2 linked regions of the Homo sapiens genome follow. The protein of the gene in region 2 purifies or fractionates together with the protein of the main gene of each other region. This does not show direct contact. Each region holds a gene or a part of one and is shown on either strand. Other genes may lie near its edges.

Region 1 (7,000 bases), on a different chromosome or scaffold from region 2:
GTATCCCATGAGCTTATCCAAATCCCTTATGAAAATCTGGTTTATAGGCCAAGCACGGTGGCTCATGTAATCCTAGCAGTTTGGGAGGCCGGAGTGGGTGGGTTGCCTGAGCTCAGGAGTTTGAGACCAGCCTGGGCAACATGGGAAAACCCCACCTCTACTAAAAATACAAAAATTCGCTGGGTGTGGTGGTGGGCGCCTGTAGTCCCAGGTACTCGGGAGGCTGAGGCATGAGAATAACTTGAACTCAGGAGTGGAGGTTTCAGTGAGCTGAGATTGTGCCACTTCACTACAGCCTGGGCGACAGAGCGAGACTCTGTCTCAAAAAAGAAAATCTGTTTTACAACTGTTTGACCCACATGAGTTGAATAGTTACTAAGGGGCACTCTTCATTTTCCAAGATAGTGAAACTATTGATATATACCCGTCTATATATATAGCTAAGAAGCGATTTTAGAAAAAGCTTACTATTTTGATTTTTACCTTATCACAGCATGAAAGTACAAATGTCGAAATGCCCCAAAATTGTATTTTTTAAAGTTGAAAATGATCTTGAAATAATCCAGAATTGATGAATGTTGCAAATGTATAAATGCCTTATTCAGTGTTTGTATTTTCCTTATGAATTTTTTTTAGAAAGAGAAAAAAGAGAAGCCAAAATCTGATAAGACTGAAGAGATAGCAGAAGAGGAAGAAACTGTTTTCCCCAAAGCTAAACAAGTTAAAAAGAAAGCAGAGCCTTCTGAAGTTGACATGAATTCTCCTAAATCCAAAAAGGCAAAAAAGAAAGAGGAGCCATCTCAAAATGACATTTCTCCTAAAACCAAAAGTTTGAGAAAGAAAAAGGAGCCCATTGAAAAGAAAGTGGTTTCTTCTAAAACCAAAAAAGTGACAAAAAATGAGGAGCCTTCTGAGGAAGAAATAGATGCTCCTAAGCCCAAGAAGATGAAGAAAGAAAAGGAAATGAATGGAGAAACTAGAGAGAAAAGCCCCAAACTGAAGAATGGATTTCCTCATCCTGAACCGGACTGTAACCCCAGTGAAGCTGCCAGTGAAGAAAGTAACAGTGAGATAGAGCAGGTACATTTGCACTTCATTGGGTAGAAGATATCTTTCATTGTTGTTTCAGATAAATAAGTAGGTAACTGCTATATGTACTCTTTAATAGTAGGAGAAAATGTGATGTGTCAGCACCTTGTGGGTTGGGGGATACCTTAGGCTGACTGGGACTTCATCTTAAAAATTAGCATACGACAGGGCATGGTGGCTCAGCTAAGAGTACTCTGTCTTTTTTATTTTTTTATTTTTTTGAGACAGAGTCTCGCTCTGTCACCTAGGCTGGAGTACAGTGGCACGATCTCAGCTCACTGCAACCTCTGCCTCCTGGGTTCAAGTGATTCTCCTACCTTAGCCTCCTCAGTAGGTGGGATTACGGGTGTGTGCTATCACGCCTGGCTAATTTTTTGTATTTTTAGTAGAGGCGGGCTTTCACCATGTTGGCCAGGCTGGTCTCGAACTCCCAACCCCAGGTGATCTGCCCGCCTGGGCCTCCCAAAGTGTTGGGATTACAGGCATGAGCTACTGTTCCCAGCGGACTCTGTCTTTAAAAAAAAAAAAAAAAAAATTAGCATAGTGTCACAATGCCTCCTTTACAAATAAGCAGATACTGCTTAAGCTTAGGGAGAGTCTTGGTCTGCTTATTTGCAAGTCAGTCAACAGAAGAGATACAGTTTTGTAAATGGGCCCTAGTTTCCCTCTGAGGGGTTTAACCAAATAAATTATTGGAATTACTGAAAAGGTTGATTGCATAAGTCCTTTTGGTTAGGCCATTAAGTAATCATCCTGGAGTTGAACAGGATGATAAAATGTCTGTCCAGAACCTAATTCTGTTATCTTTCAGAAACTCAGTTATGAAAGAAATACGAATTGTATTAAAAAAATTTGTTTTAGACATGGGATCTCGCTGTGTGGCCCAGGCTGGTCTAGAACTTGTGGCTTCAAGCGATAATCCCGCCTAAGCCTCCCGAGTAGCTGGGATTACAGGCACAAGCCACCACACCCAGCTGAAAAATACTAATTCTAATAGATTTTCTTTTTGCTATAGATCATGGTCAACATTTGTAACTTTTTTCCTGATTATAAAAAATATGTGATCCAGAGAAAATAGAAAATGCAGACATTTTGCAAAAAGAAAGAAATGCTTCCTGGAATTTCACCATTCATTTAGTAAATATTAATACCTGTACTTTTCAAGTACAGAAGTCATCTTGTTAATTTTTGGTGTTTCCTTGTAGTACTTTTAGTATATGCATCTATTATTTTTAATCAGATTAGGATTGTACTGTGCAATCTTGTATCTTTTTTGTTTCTAGCTAAGCATTTTCCTCGTTAAGTACGCTTAATGGTTACATAATCCTTCATATAAATGTCTTGAAATCTACTTACTACTTGTATTGAGCATTCAGATATCTTACTATCAAATAATGCCACAGTGACTGCTACCTCATAAAATGTTTGTTCATTTTCTATGGATGTGTGTATACAAGAGATGCTGCTTTGGAAGAGGGCTAATGACATTTCCATCAGTATATTGTTGATTATGGTTATGGAGTAGATCTTAGTTGAGATCTAGTCACACATAATCTTAGTTGAGATCTTAGTTGAGATCTAGTTACCCAGTATATATTTGCCTCAGATTTTTCTTTTGTTAAAGTTTTATAGATTTATGACAATGTTTCCTTTTCAGATCTCGAGTTACCTATCAAGGTTTTTGTATCTTTTTGGTTGATTTTTAAAGTGATGTGTTTAGAAGAATTGCTTTAGGATAGCTTGTTTTGTCTCTTTCTCAGAAGGTTCTCTATTAATTTGTGTAGGTGATTATTGATTTCTTTCTATGGCCCTTTACTTGATAGGAAATACCTGTGGAACAAAAAGAAGGCGCTTTCTCTAATTTTCCCATATCTGAAGAAACTATTAAACTTCTCAAAGGTAATGTTCTTGGAAATATCGTATGATGTTAGAACGTATTATTTTAACAGAAGCACTCCACTATTTTTGTTAAGATGAACCAGGATGTATTCTTATTGTAGGCTGATATATGCAGTCATATAATGAAGTAGGCCTGTGTATTCAATTTAGTACTATAGTAGTGATGGTTCTTCATGCTTCTTAAACAAGTGGTTAAAGCTTTTTCAGGCCCTCTGTGGTGGCTCACACCTGTAATTGATTGAGGCCAGGAGTTTGAGATCTTCCTGGGTAACATAGTGAGAACCTGTCCCGACAAAAAGTTTAAAAATTAGCTGGGCACGTGGTAACACACATCTATAGTCCTAACTACTCCAGAGGCTGAGGAAGGAAGATCGCTTGAGCCCAGGAGTTCAAGGCTTCAGTGAACTGTGGTCACACCACTGCACGCCAGCCTGGGTGACAGAATGAAACCCTGTCTCAAAAAAAATTGTATTTAATACAGTGTGTATTCAGAAGTGTATTGACTAATGGTGCTGGTGAAATTAAGCAATTAGGTGATGCCATATTAATGTTTTATCTCTTTCACTTCTGAGGCATCTCTAGATTAATGAGCCTAATTTATAGGCATAAACCCAGAATTCATTTAATAATCTGCTTCTGAAGTAGCTGGAGTCACAGTTACTCAAGTAGGTGCTTCCTAAATCAGGAGCAGCACAGTTGGATTGCAAAGCACCAGATTTTCAGGCTTATGGATGAGACTTCAAATATTTACTATAATTGGATGCTTTAAAGTTTGTTGATATTTTTCAGTCAAGCAGATTCTTTACTATCAGAATATTTCTGAGCCAGGTATGATGGCTTGCACCTGTAATCCCAGCTGTCCATCAGGCTGAGGCAGGAGGATCACTTGAGCCCAGGAGTTCAAGGCTGCAAGTGAGTTATGATCACACCACTGTACTCCAGCATGGGCGACAAAGCAAGACCTTGTCTCTTAAAAAATATACGTATTTGAGCCTAACTTTGTAGATGTTGACCAGAAGGTAGAATTCCTTAATTCTGCAGGACCAGAAGCATGAGTAGTATACTTCAGTATGTCAGTATGGCTAATGTTTTAAGAATTGCAGTGTGAGATAACACAGTTAATTTGTTCATAGGCCGAGGAGTGACCTTCCTATTTCCTATACAAGCAAAGACATTCCATCATGTTTACAGCGGGAAGGACTTAATTGCACAGGCACGGACAGGAACTGGGAAGACATTCTCCTTTGCCATCCCTTTGATTGAGAAACTTCATGGGGAACTGCAAGACAGGAAGAGAGGCCGTGCCCCTCAGGTAACTGTCTTAAATACAAGGGCTCTCAGTCAGCATAGGAAAAACCACCACTTGGGCATTGTGTACATACCCTACTATTTTTTATTGAGTTCTTATAGTCACCCATTCTATTTACTGTGGATCTTTATGTGAAAGTAATCCAGGACAATTCTTTTATATTTAATAATTAATATATACAGATCATTCTCTGTATATTTCAATATTTTAATCTTTCCCACAGTTTTGATCATCTATATAATTAATGCTATCATATTTCCTTCAAACCATTAGATGTCCCTGGGGCTCATAGCTTTCGTCAAGTGTCTGACCATTTTTGCCTAGATGGAGAAAGCATTTTTGGTAGAAAAGCATGAATGGGCGGTGGCTCACACCTGTAATCCCAGCACTTTGGGAGCCCGAGGTGGGCGGATCACGAGGTCAGGAGATCGAGACCATCCTGGCTAACAACATGAAAGCCCATCTCTAATAAAAATACAAAAAATTAGCCGGGCGTGGTGGCGGGCGCGTGTAGTCCCAACTACTTGGGAGGCTGAGGCAGGAGAATGGCGTGAATCCAGGAGGCGGAGCTTGCAGTGAGCCGAGATGCACCACTGCACTCCAGCCTGGGCGATAGAGCAAGACTCCGTCTCAAGAAAAAAAAAAAAAAAAAAAGAAAAGCATGAATGGAAAGAAGGGCAAGTCAGAGGTGAAAACGCCAAGCCCCCATATTAGGGTGAGTCCATTGGGTTCATTTCTAGAGAACTTGACATTTAACAAACATTAACCTCATTGAAATGACTGCGAATGCCCATGTAGTCACTTTGGCTGTGGGTTCTTGCAGTTGTCTTTCTGGCCTAACCTCACTTGCTCACTGGCCTTCCAGTGTCCATGCTCCCCCTTTGTTAATTTGTTTACTGCTATATCCCTAGCACATTTTAGATGAATGTATTAGGTGTTCTTGAATCATATTAGTTTCATACCATTACCCTATTTTTGAGGACCTGTAGCAGTTCAAGCAATTCTCCTGCCTTAGCCTCCCAAGTAGCTGGGATTACAGGCGTGTACCACCATGCCTGGCTAATTTTGTATTTTTAGTAGAGATGGGGTTTCACCATGTTGGCCAGGCTGGTCTGGAACTCCTGACGTCAAGTGATCCACCCACCTCAGCCTCCCAAAGTGCTGGAATTATAGGCTTGAGCCACTGCACCTGGACTTTTTTTTTTTTTTTTTTTTGAGACAAAGTCTCGCTTTGTCGCCCAGGTTGGAGTGCGGTGGTGCAATCTTAACCTCTGCCTCGCAGGTTTAAGTGATCCTCCCGCCTCAACATCCCAAGTAGTTGGGATTACAAGTGTGAGCCACCACGCCTGGCTCATTTGTATTTTTAGTAGAGATAGACTTTCACCATGTTGGCCAGGCTGGTCTTGAACTCCTGACCACCCACCTTGGCCTCCCAAAGTGCTAGGATTATAGGCATGAGCCATTGCGCCTGGCCAGCAGTTTCATGTTTTATATATATATAGATCAAATTCATATTGCTCTAGGATTCAAAGCCCCTTACATTGTTGGCTCTACCTTACTTCTCTGATTTTGTTCTGCTTCAAATTTTCTCTACTGTAGAGGTTAAGACTATAGGTTTTGGATCCCAATTGCTTGAAGGCTCTGCTCCTTCTTAGCCTTTGGGGTTTAGTCAAGTTATTTATCCTCTAATACCTAGCTCAAAAGGTTGCAAGAATTGAATCAGAATAATATATATAAAGAATTTAGTAGAGTCTCAGATCTATTAGACAAAAATATTAGATAATGTTATCGTCATCATCAGCGTTAGACCTTGTTCAAGTCGTTCTTTTCCTGGAATGCTGTTCTTTAAGGACTAGATTAAGAAACAAATACTACACAGTAATTTGAATTCAATTATTTTTCTTTATCAGGTACTGGTTCTTGCACCTACAAGAGAGTTGGCAAATCAAGTAAGCAAAGACTTCAGTGACATCACAAAAAAGCTGTCAGTGGCTTGTTTTTATGGTGGAACTCCCTATGGAGGTCAATGTGAGTACATTCAAAAAGTGAGGGAGGTATAATGCCACCCATTGTTGACTGCTCTGATTGGATTTCTTTTCACCTTGACATCTGGCTTCTCTATATAGGATAGTCGTTTATGGGGATTTTCTTTTGCCATTGTTTAAACATGGTCAAGAACATGGTCCTGCTTGATGATAGGCAAATCCTGTATATCGTTCTTAGGACTTTTATCTATTTATATTTATCTAGGGGCTACAAAAGTAATTTATTATTGAACCCAAAAAGACAGTCCATTTGGGCTCTAGGAAATAGGAAGTCAGAATTCAAGGTTCCTCTTGTCTGTCAGGACCTTGGGTCTGTCCCTCTTTCTGCATGGTTGCTTCTTTCTTGATGTAGGCAGGCTTTCTTTCCTTGGGGCTCAAGGGCCAAATGTTAGTCTCTACTCTTATATTCCATTACTTCCCAGTTCAAGGCCTTGGAGCTTTATTATTAGAGCAGATGTATAAATTAGGAAGGGATTTAAGGAATTTAAAAAAATCATAGTTTTGGCCAGGCGCAGTGGCTCACGCCTGTAATCCCAGCACTTTGGGAGGCTGAGGCGGGCAGATCACAAGGGCAGGAGATCGAGACCATCCTGGCTAACACGGTAAAACCCCGTCTCTACTAAAAATACAAAAAATTAGCCGGGCGTGGTGGCAGGCA
Region 2 (8,091 bases):
GATCTTGCCACTAACCCTAAATTTTATGACTTCTGATGATCTTGGGGTTTTTAAATATTTTATAGTATGTAATGTAATTGTACTGGTTTATTAAGGTCTAGCTGCAACCAAAGTCTCCAGAATCTGGGTGTTAGAAAAACAAAAGTTAGAGGTGTTTTTAAGTACCATACTGTACTCTTCTCTAAGGCAAGCAGACTCTAACCAACCAATTCATTTGGTCCCAAGTCAAAAATCTAGAGATGCTATAAGCAATGTAAAATTTCTAATTCCAAAACATAACACTGCTACCATCTATATATTATTTAAATATATCTTGTAAAACCAGTATTTTAAAGCCATGTCAATTTTAAGTAAAATTTAAGAAGTACTTCACTAACCTGAGTTATTTAACCAAAAGGAAATTCTTATGGCCTAATAGGCAGCATGATGAAACTGATATGACTCAGCAACAAACACTATTAAGACAAACAATAGGAAAATATTCAAAAAGATAACATTTTTATTTTTGATGATTTTTCTAAGGCTAAAATTTATCAACTAATAAAAATATTCCTCAAAATATACTGTTTACCATAAAGTCTGTTACCAATAATGAACAGAGGAAAGATTCACCCCAGAGAAATTAAAAACTATTTTGGCTAAAGGGATTGCTCGTCTCCTATCTGCTAAGGAGTTAGCTCCTGGAAACCCCCAGTGCACTGCCTAACATTACTTAAAAACCACTAAGATAAGGTTAACAAAAAAAACTTGCAGCCAGGCACAGTGGCTTACACCTGTAATCCCAGCATTTAAGGCAGCAGCTCACGCCTGTAATCCCTTCCATTTTGGGAGGCCAAGGTAGGCAGAGTACCTGAAGTCAGGAGTTTGAAACCAACCTGGCTAACATGGTGCACCCCATTTCTACTAAAAATACAAAGAATTAGCTGGGCGTGGTAGCGCGTGCCTGTAATCCCAGCTACTCAGGAGGCTGAGGCAGGAGAATCACTTGAACCTGGGAAGCAGAAGTTGCAGTGAGCTGAGATAGTGCCATTGCACTCCAGCTTGGGCAACAAAAGCAAAATTCTGTCTCAAAAAAAAAAAAAAACCAACTTGCAAAAATGGGAATTCAATTAACAGGGAAACAGCCTTGAACCTAGGTTAGAACACATAGCTACTAAGTTTCAGAGCCCACTACTACTTATTAATAACAGTCTCCTCATCCAAAGCACAGTGAAGATCAACCTCAAGAGAAGATCTGTACTAAGTAAATCAAATGGATTAGGCAGCAGCCAAAAAAATAATAATACAGTAGGAAAAAATAAAATTGAGGGATAGACAGTAACTAGTAGACAACTTACTATTAGTAAATGGAAAAGAGTAGTAAATGCCAACTCAGTACAAGAACAGAGAGGCCCATTTTTGGAAAAGTACCTGTTAAGACAGTTGATATAGGCCAGGTGCAGTGGCTCACGCCTATAATCCCAACACTTTGGGAGGCTGAGGCGGGCGGATCACCTAAGGTCAGGAGTTCAAGACCGGCCTGACCAACATGGAGAAACCCTGTCTCTACCAAAAATACAAAATTAGCAGGGTGTGGTGGTGCATGCCGGTAATCCCAGCTACTAGGGAAGCTAAGGCAGGGGAATTGCTTAAACCTGGGAGGCGGAGGTTGCAGTGAGCCGAGATTGCGCCATTGCACTACAGCCTGGGCAACAAGAACGAAATTCTGTCTCAGAAGAAAAAAAAACAACAAGAAAAACAAAGACAGTGATACAGTCTGTGTGTTTGTGTTCCCACAAATTTCATGTTTAAATCCTAACCCTCAAGGTGATGATATTAAGAGGTAGGGCCTTTGAGTGGTAATTAGATCATGAGAGGAAAGCCCTAGTGAATGGGATTCATGCCCTTATAATATAGGGCCAAGGGTGCTCATTCACCCTTTAACCATGTGAGGACACAGCAAGAAGGCACCATCTATAAATCGGGGAACAGCCCTCACCAGGCAGATATCCAATCTGCCAGTGCCTTGATCTTGGACTTCCCAGCCTCCAAAACTGTGAGAAATAATTTCTGACATATCTGTTGTTTATAAGCTACCAAGTCAATAGTAGTTTGTTATAGCAGCCCAAAAGGACTAAGACAGATGGTGCAATGGAAAAAAAGATTATCTGTTAAATTTCTAAAAGTAAATCTTCTTTGAAGAAAATGAGTTATAAAAGGAAAAACTGGGAAGGAGTAGAGAAACCCATTTATCAGTCTGCAGCCTCTGGGCAACGGGCAAATCATTAAACTCACCTAGATCTGTGGTTACATGGAATGAACTCAGAGGTGCTTCCAGCTCTGCTATTAAATGAAAATCTTCAAAACACTATCAGCACAAAATAGGTTTAAAATAATTTAAAAATTTGTGCCGTAAGTAACAAAGCACATGATAGACAGTGTAAAAGCCCCTGTGTTAACTAAATTATTTTATATCACCCCATTTTATGGGACTCATTTTCTGCTTTATTTCTAAGTTCCTGCAACAGAGGTCATCAGTTTTATAATTAGAAAAATATTTTACTAAAAATGGTAAAAAGAAAAAGGAAGGAAGAAAAGCCCAATCAAGAGTAAAATAGGCTGGGCACGGTGGCTCACGCCTGTAATCCCAGCACTCTGGGAAGCCGAGGCGGGTGGATCATGAGGTCAGGAGATCGAGACCATCCTGGCTAACACGGTGAAACCCCGTCTCTACTAAAAATACAAAAATTAGCCGGGCGTGGTGGCACGCACTTGTAGTCCCAGCTACTTGGGAGGCTGAGGCAGGAGAATGGCGTGAACCCGGGAGGCGGAGCTCACAGTGAGCCGAGATCGTACCACTGCACTCCAGCCTGGGCGACAGAGTGAGACTCCATCTCAAAAAGAAAAAAAAAAAAAAAAAAAAAAAAGTAAAATAAAGTTTATTCTCATGTGGAAAATTCAAAACAAGATTTCCTCCCTTGAGGAAAATAGAAGCGGAAGTTATTTCCAAAATAATTAAGGTGACGAGTTAATTGCTGAATCATTCTGAATGCAGTATATGGAGTATATGTACTTTGTGTCCACACTGACATCACCCTAGGCTAAAACTGATCTGAAGTAGTGTCCATGCCTGCTTAAGCAGCACCTGAAGCACACCATCACACCCTGATAGGCAGCCAGTCAACACAGCCGGCAATAATGCCATTTGTCACTTAGGCGTACCAACGAATGAATGAGTCACTAAATTCTTATCGGAATATGCAAATTAAAGCTACTTTCCTGGATCCTAATTGTTATATACTTTAAGCACTAAAGAATTTGTCTAGAAACACAAAGCATTCACCACCCACAAAGAATTTTTGCATGTTTTTCTTCATTTTGGTTTTCAAATGATATAAAAAAGGAAGGTGTTGAGAATAACTCTGTAGAGATGAAGCTGTTAGACAGGTCGGAAGATCCGGGTCCTAGGGTAAGTACAGTGAATAAACTAGCAGGCTCCTTCCTCAAGGGCAAGTCCCTTAGCTCTGTGTAATCTACTAATTAGGAACAATAGTATCTGCTCACAGGATGTTTATGCAATGCAAAATGAACGAATCTAGAAAAGTACTGTGAAGACGAAAGCACAGGATGACACCATCCTCTGTAACAAACAGAGGGAGGAGTGACATCAGCCCAAGCAAAGCAGGTAGGTGCCCGTGGTGAAGGTAGCCTTCAAGTCTAACTTCTTACAGAAAGATGATTATTTACCTCTTTCTGTAGATTAGAAAGCTGGGATGAAAGGCTCTCAATTCTCATGCGGCTTTCCATCAGTTCTTCCCTGGCACTGTTGACAGTAGAAGTATTCATCTCTGATGACAGTCTGGCATTCTCAAGCTAAAAGAAGAAGCAAAGCATAGTCAGTCTTATCTAGAACTGAAACAAAAAAGGAAGCATGATTCACCTCAAGGCATTTCAAACCTAAGTCCTGCTGGTAACTGGTAGATGAAACACAGGAAAAGCATCATGAAGTTTGCTGATATGGTGTGAATGATGGTAATTCTGTGTGACTTTTAGAGTCACTTCCTAAATAATGAGCTTTAAGAATGCTAATATACCTAGGCCTTTACCCAAAGCTTATTACTTCAATATTTCATCTATTAAACCTTTAATGTCTAAGATAACACTGATAATAAGAAGACTGGGCAATAGCAACTTGACTGTGGTGGTGTCTGTAAGAAAAGAAACATCACATATCCCTAACCCACCAAATCCAATACAGAATGTAAACCAACAAGCAGAAAATACTAGTTTATAGATTCGTTCAAACCAGATAGAAACACTTCCTTTCAGAAGCAAAAAAAACTCCTTGAGTAAAATACAAATCCCATAACACTATTGTGTATGTGTGTCTCAGGGACATGCTCCTGTGTCTCCTCCCTGGCTCCCTGTGAGGCCACAGTCTGTGACGGATCCTTACTTTAGCTCCTTCACTGTATAGCTCAATGTGTGATATTAGATAAATGTTATACAACTGAAGTTACTGCTTATAATAAGATCTTTCACTTTCACTAACTGCTACTTCATACAATAGATAAAAAGCAACATGAACAGTTTAAAGCCATGCAATGAAAATTTTCAATAACTCTGTGACTCTAATATTCTAAGTCAACCACAAAAAAGTCTTTTTAATCAAATCATGTAACATTTAAAACACAAGGCAAAATCATTTACCAGGGAAAGCCTGTACTAGTTGGTGATTTTTATGAATTCTTGTAAGGTCAGCTAATATAAGTGGGAAGTTTCTACAATATTTTTTTAAGTGAATAATAGTGACAGAAGAAGAAATAGCAGAGACTTTCCATTTGGCCCTTATGCAAAAAAGCCGGAAGTGTGGTAGTCACAATCTATGCACAATGATGACATGAAAGTGAGATCTAATGCAGTCTGACATTCATTCATTACTAAATGGATGTTTATGTAGGACAGCATGATCAGTACTTGTTATTGGAAGAAAGTTATTTCACATGGTTTGGGTTCAACTACTATGGCATAGTACGAATGATCAATGGGACAAAAAGACAAAACCTAACCTCTAATAAAATTGCAACAACCCTACATTCTTCTAGTAATTTTTAATAACATTTAGTTTATAGAAAACTGCACTTTTTTGAAAAAATCAATTTTCTATATATTTCATGGAGACTAGGGGAATCATTTTTAAAAACTAGAACAAAATAAACATAAAGCCATGTTCATCATGGGAATTGTGAAGTAATGATTTTAAGTGTTCAAAAGAATCTTCTGAAGAGAGCTCACTTTGGCATGGTAAGTCTGCTCCAGCTCCTCCTTATACAGCCTCACTTGGGCATCATGTTGCTCTCTCATCTCATGAAGGGCTTGCGCCAGCTTGTACTCATACTCAATTTGACGCCCAGAATCCACCTCTACCAAGCGCGTTTCATGCTTCCTTCTGGTCTCGTTAATCTCCTGGGGAAAAAACAAAAAGCATAAAGCCAAGCTACTTACCATGGCTGCATTGGTACACATCTGAGTGACATCACAGCCATCTGAAGTTTTACACACGAACTTCCTCCTGTTTGTCCTCAGGCGGTCATGTGAATAAACACTTTTTTGCCTCTTAGTTTTCAGTTGAGGTTTTTGAAATGGAACTAATGACAGAAGTGGTAGCATCTCAAGCCTTAGGAACTTTCTATTCCTTTTCAGGAGCATAGCTATTTATTTTTCTGAAGCCAAGGAAAGGCCTGGATGGCCTACTAAAACTATCTGCAATCAAGGATTTATACACAGTATACTATACTAAACACTAAGCAAAAATTATTTTTCTGAATTGTTTCATTGATAATCTTAAGAACATCTCTGAAAAAACAGCACATGGAAAGTTAAACTTAACAGTTGTGATAAATTCATGTAAAGATTTATGTGAAATGAAACTATTTTCTTTTCTTTTCTTTTCTTTTCTGAGATAGAGTATCACTCTGTCGCCCAGGCTGTTGTGCAATGGTATGATCTCAGCTCACTACAACCTCCGCCTCCCGGGTTCAAGCAATTCTCCTGCATCAGCCTCCCTAGTAACTGGGATTACAGGCACATACCACCATGCCCAGCTAATTTTTGTATTTTTAGTAGAGATGAGATTTCCCCATGTTGGCCAGACTGGTCTCAAACTCCTGACCTCAGGTGATCCATCTGCCTCAGCCACTCAAGTTGCTGGGATTACAGGTGTGAACCACCTTGCCCAGCCATAAAACCATTTTCTTAGACATAATAATAGGCAGCACAAGCTAATTTACATGACTTCTTTAAAAGCCGGTATTAAGCTATCATTATCAAGTGACACAGGATCTTATTAACAATATTAGTTGACTAACTCAAATATTTATGAAAAATTTACCATTGAAGAATAGAAGTAGTTGTCATGATCCTTTCCTTTACTCTGTTTTAAGGAAGTGTCTAAATAAAATTAGAATGGAAGGCTGGGCGCGGTGGCTCACGCCTGTAATCCTAGCACTTTGGGAGGCCAAGGCAATCAGATCACCTGAGGTGAGGAGTTCAAGACCAGCCTGGCCAATATGGTAAAACCCTGTCTCTACTAAAATACAAAAATTAGTCAGCCATGATGGAGGGTGCCTGTAATCCCAGCTACTCAGGAGGCTGAGATGGGAGAATCACTTGAACCTGGGAGACGGTGGTTGCAGTGAGCCAAGATCGCACCACTGCATTCCAGCCTGGGCAGCTGAGCTGGACTCCGTCTCAAAAAAAAAAAAATAATAATTAGAATGGTAATATCTGAAGAAGCCACAAGAGGGAAGTATAACCCACCAAAGTTGCTGTTTGTGTATATTAGCGCATGTATTTTCCTTTGCATTTCTTCATCTTTCTCTTAACTACTACACAGGAGCATGCACTTGACAAAATCTGAAAAATCAGAAAAATCAGGAGGATTCTGCTATCACCTTCCCAGAGATCACATCTATTTCATGAAGCAAATAATACCTAAATCACAAAAATACTGAAGAGTGACTGCTAATGGTTTGTTCTTTGTCTACCTCCTCCTTCCTCTTTCGTCTTTCTCCTTCCTTTTTTCCCCCAACTGTTCATAATAAGGAAGTTAGATATTATTACTGAATATATATCATGAATGTAAAAAAAAAAAGTTAAGGCCAGCGTAGTGGCTCACACCTGTAATCCCAGCACTTTGGGAGGCTGAGGCGAGTGGCTCACCTGAGGCCAGGAGTTTTAGACCAGCCTGGCCAACATGGTATTACTTAGTAAAAAGTAAGGAAAAAAAAAAAAAGTTAGCCAGTTGTGAGGGTGTGAACCTGTAATCCCAGCTACTCGTGAGGCTGAGGCACAAGAATCATTTGAATCCAGGAGGCACAGGTTGCAGTGAGCCAAGACCGTACCACTGCACACCAGCCTGGGCAACAGAGTGAGACTCTGTCTCACACAAAAAAATTTTTTTTAAAGTAAAAAAGGCCAGGTGCGGTGGCTCACAACTATAATCCCAGCACTTTGGGAGGCCGAGGCAGATGGAGCACTTGAGTTCAGGAGTTCGAGACCAGCCTGGCCAATGTGGTGAAACCCTGTCTCTACTAAAAATACAAAACTTAGCCGGGCATGGTGGCACATGCCTGTAGACCCAGTTACTCCAGAGGCTGAAGCAGAAGAATCGCTTGAACCCAGGAGGTGGAGGTTGCAGTGAGCCAAGATCGTACTACTGCACTCCAGCCTGGGCGAGAGAGCAGGACTCTGTCTCCAAAAAGAGTTAAAAAAAACAAAAACAAAAACAAAACTGAAGAGGACTATCTTAACATCCATTCTCAAAAAGGCAAAGGCCAAAAATTCAAAGATGCTATGCACTCTAAAAATATTAAATTACTTTTTACTGATGCTATTTTTTATATAGAACCAGTGACCTTACAAAGAAAAAAAACCCTACTCCTGGTTGTCTACACACAACATCAGAAATAAGTAATGATAAATCACAATTTTTACAAAACAAAACAAAAATGTAAGTCAACCTCATATCAAAATATCTGCTTTAACAAAGCAACACTTAGTAACAATTATATGACAGCACTTGCTACAGTATCCAAAGAGTTTTCACACACA

Evidence for each region. The genes of interacting proteins can lie anywhere in the genome.
Region 1: the proteins of LMNB1 (region 2) and DDX21 purify together in Homo sapiens (affinity purification with mass spectrometry; 2 studies listed by BioGRID and IntAct, with this or other methods). This does not show direct contact.

Annotation. Positions count from the first base shown.
Region 1 is NC_000010.11:68,959,170-68,966,169, forward strand, and holds part of DDX21 (nucleolar RNA helicase 2), read left to right. Parts: intron 1-636; coding exon 637-1,080; intron 1,081-2,912; coding exon 2,913-2,988; intron 2,989-4,121; coding exon 4,122-4,300; intron 4,301-6,207; coding exon 6,208-6,325; intron 6,326-7,000.
Region 2 is NC_000005.10:126,807,534-126,815,624, reverse strand, and holds part of LMNB1 (lamin-B1), read right to left. Parts: intron 5,446-8,091; coding exon 5,275-5,445; intron 3,853-5,274; coding exon 3,727-3,852; intron 456-3,726; exon of another isoform or gene 378-455; intron 1-377. UniProt on the Homo sapiens protein: Lamins are intermediate filament proteins that assemble into a filamentous meshwork, and which constitute the major components of the nuclear lamina, a fibrous layer on the nucleoplasmic side of the inner nuclear membrane.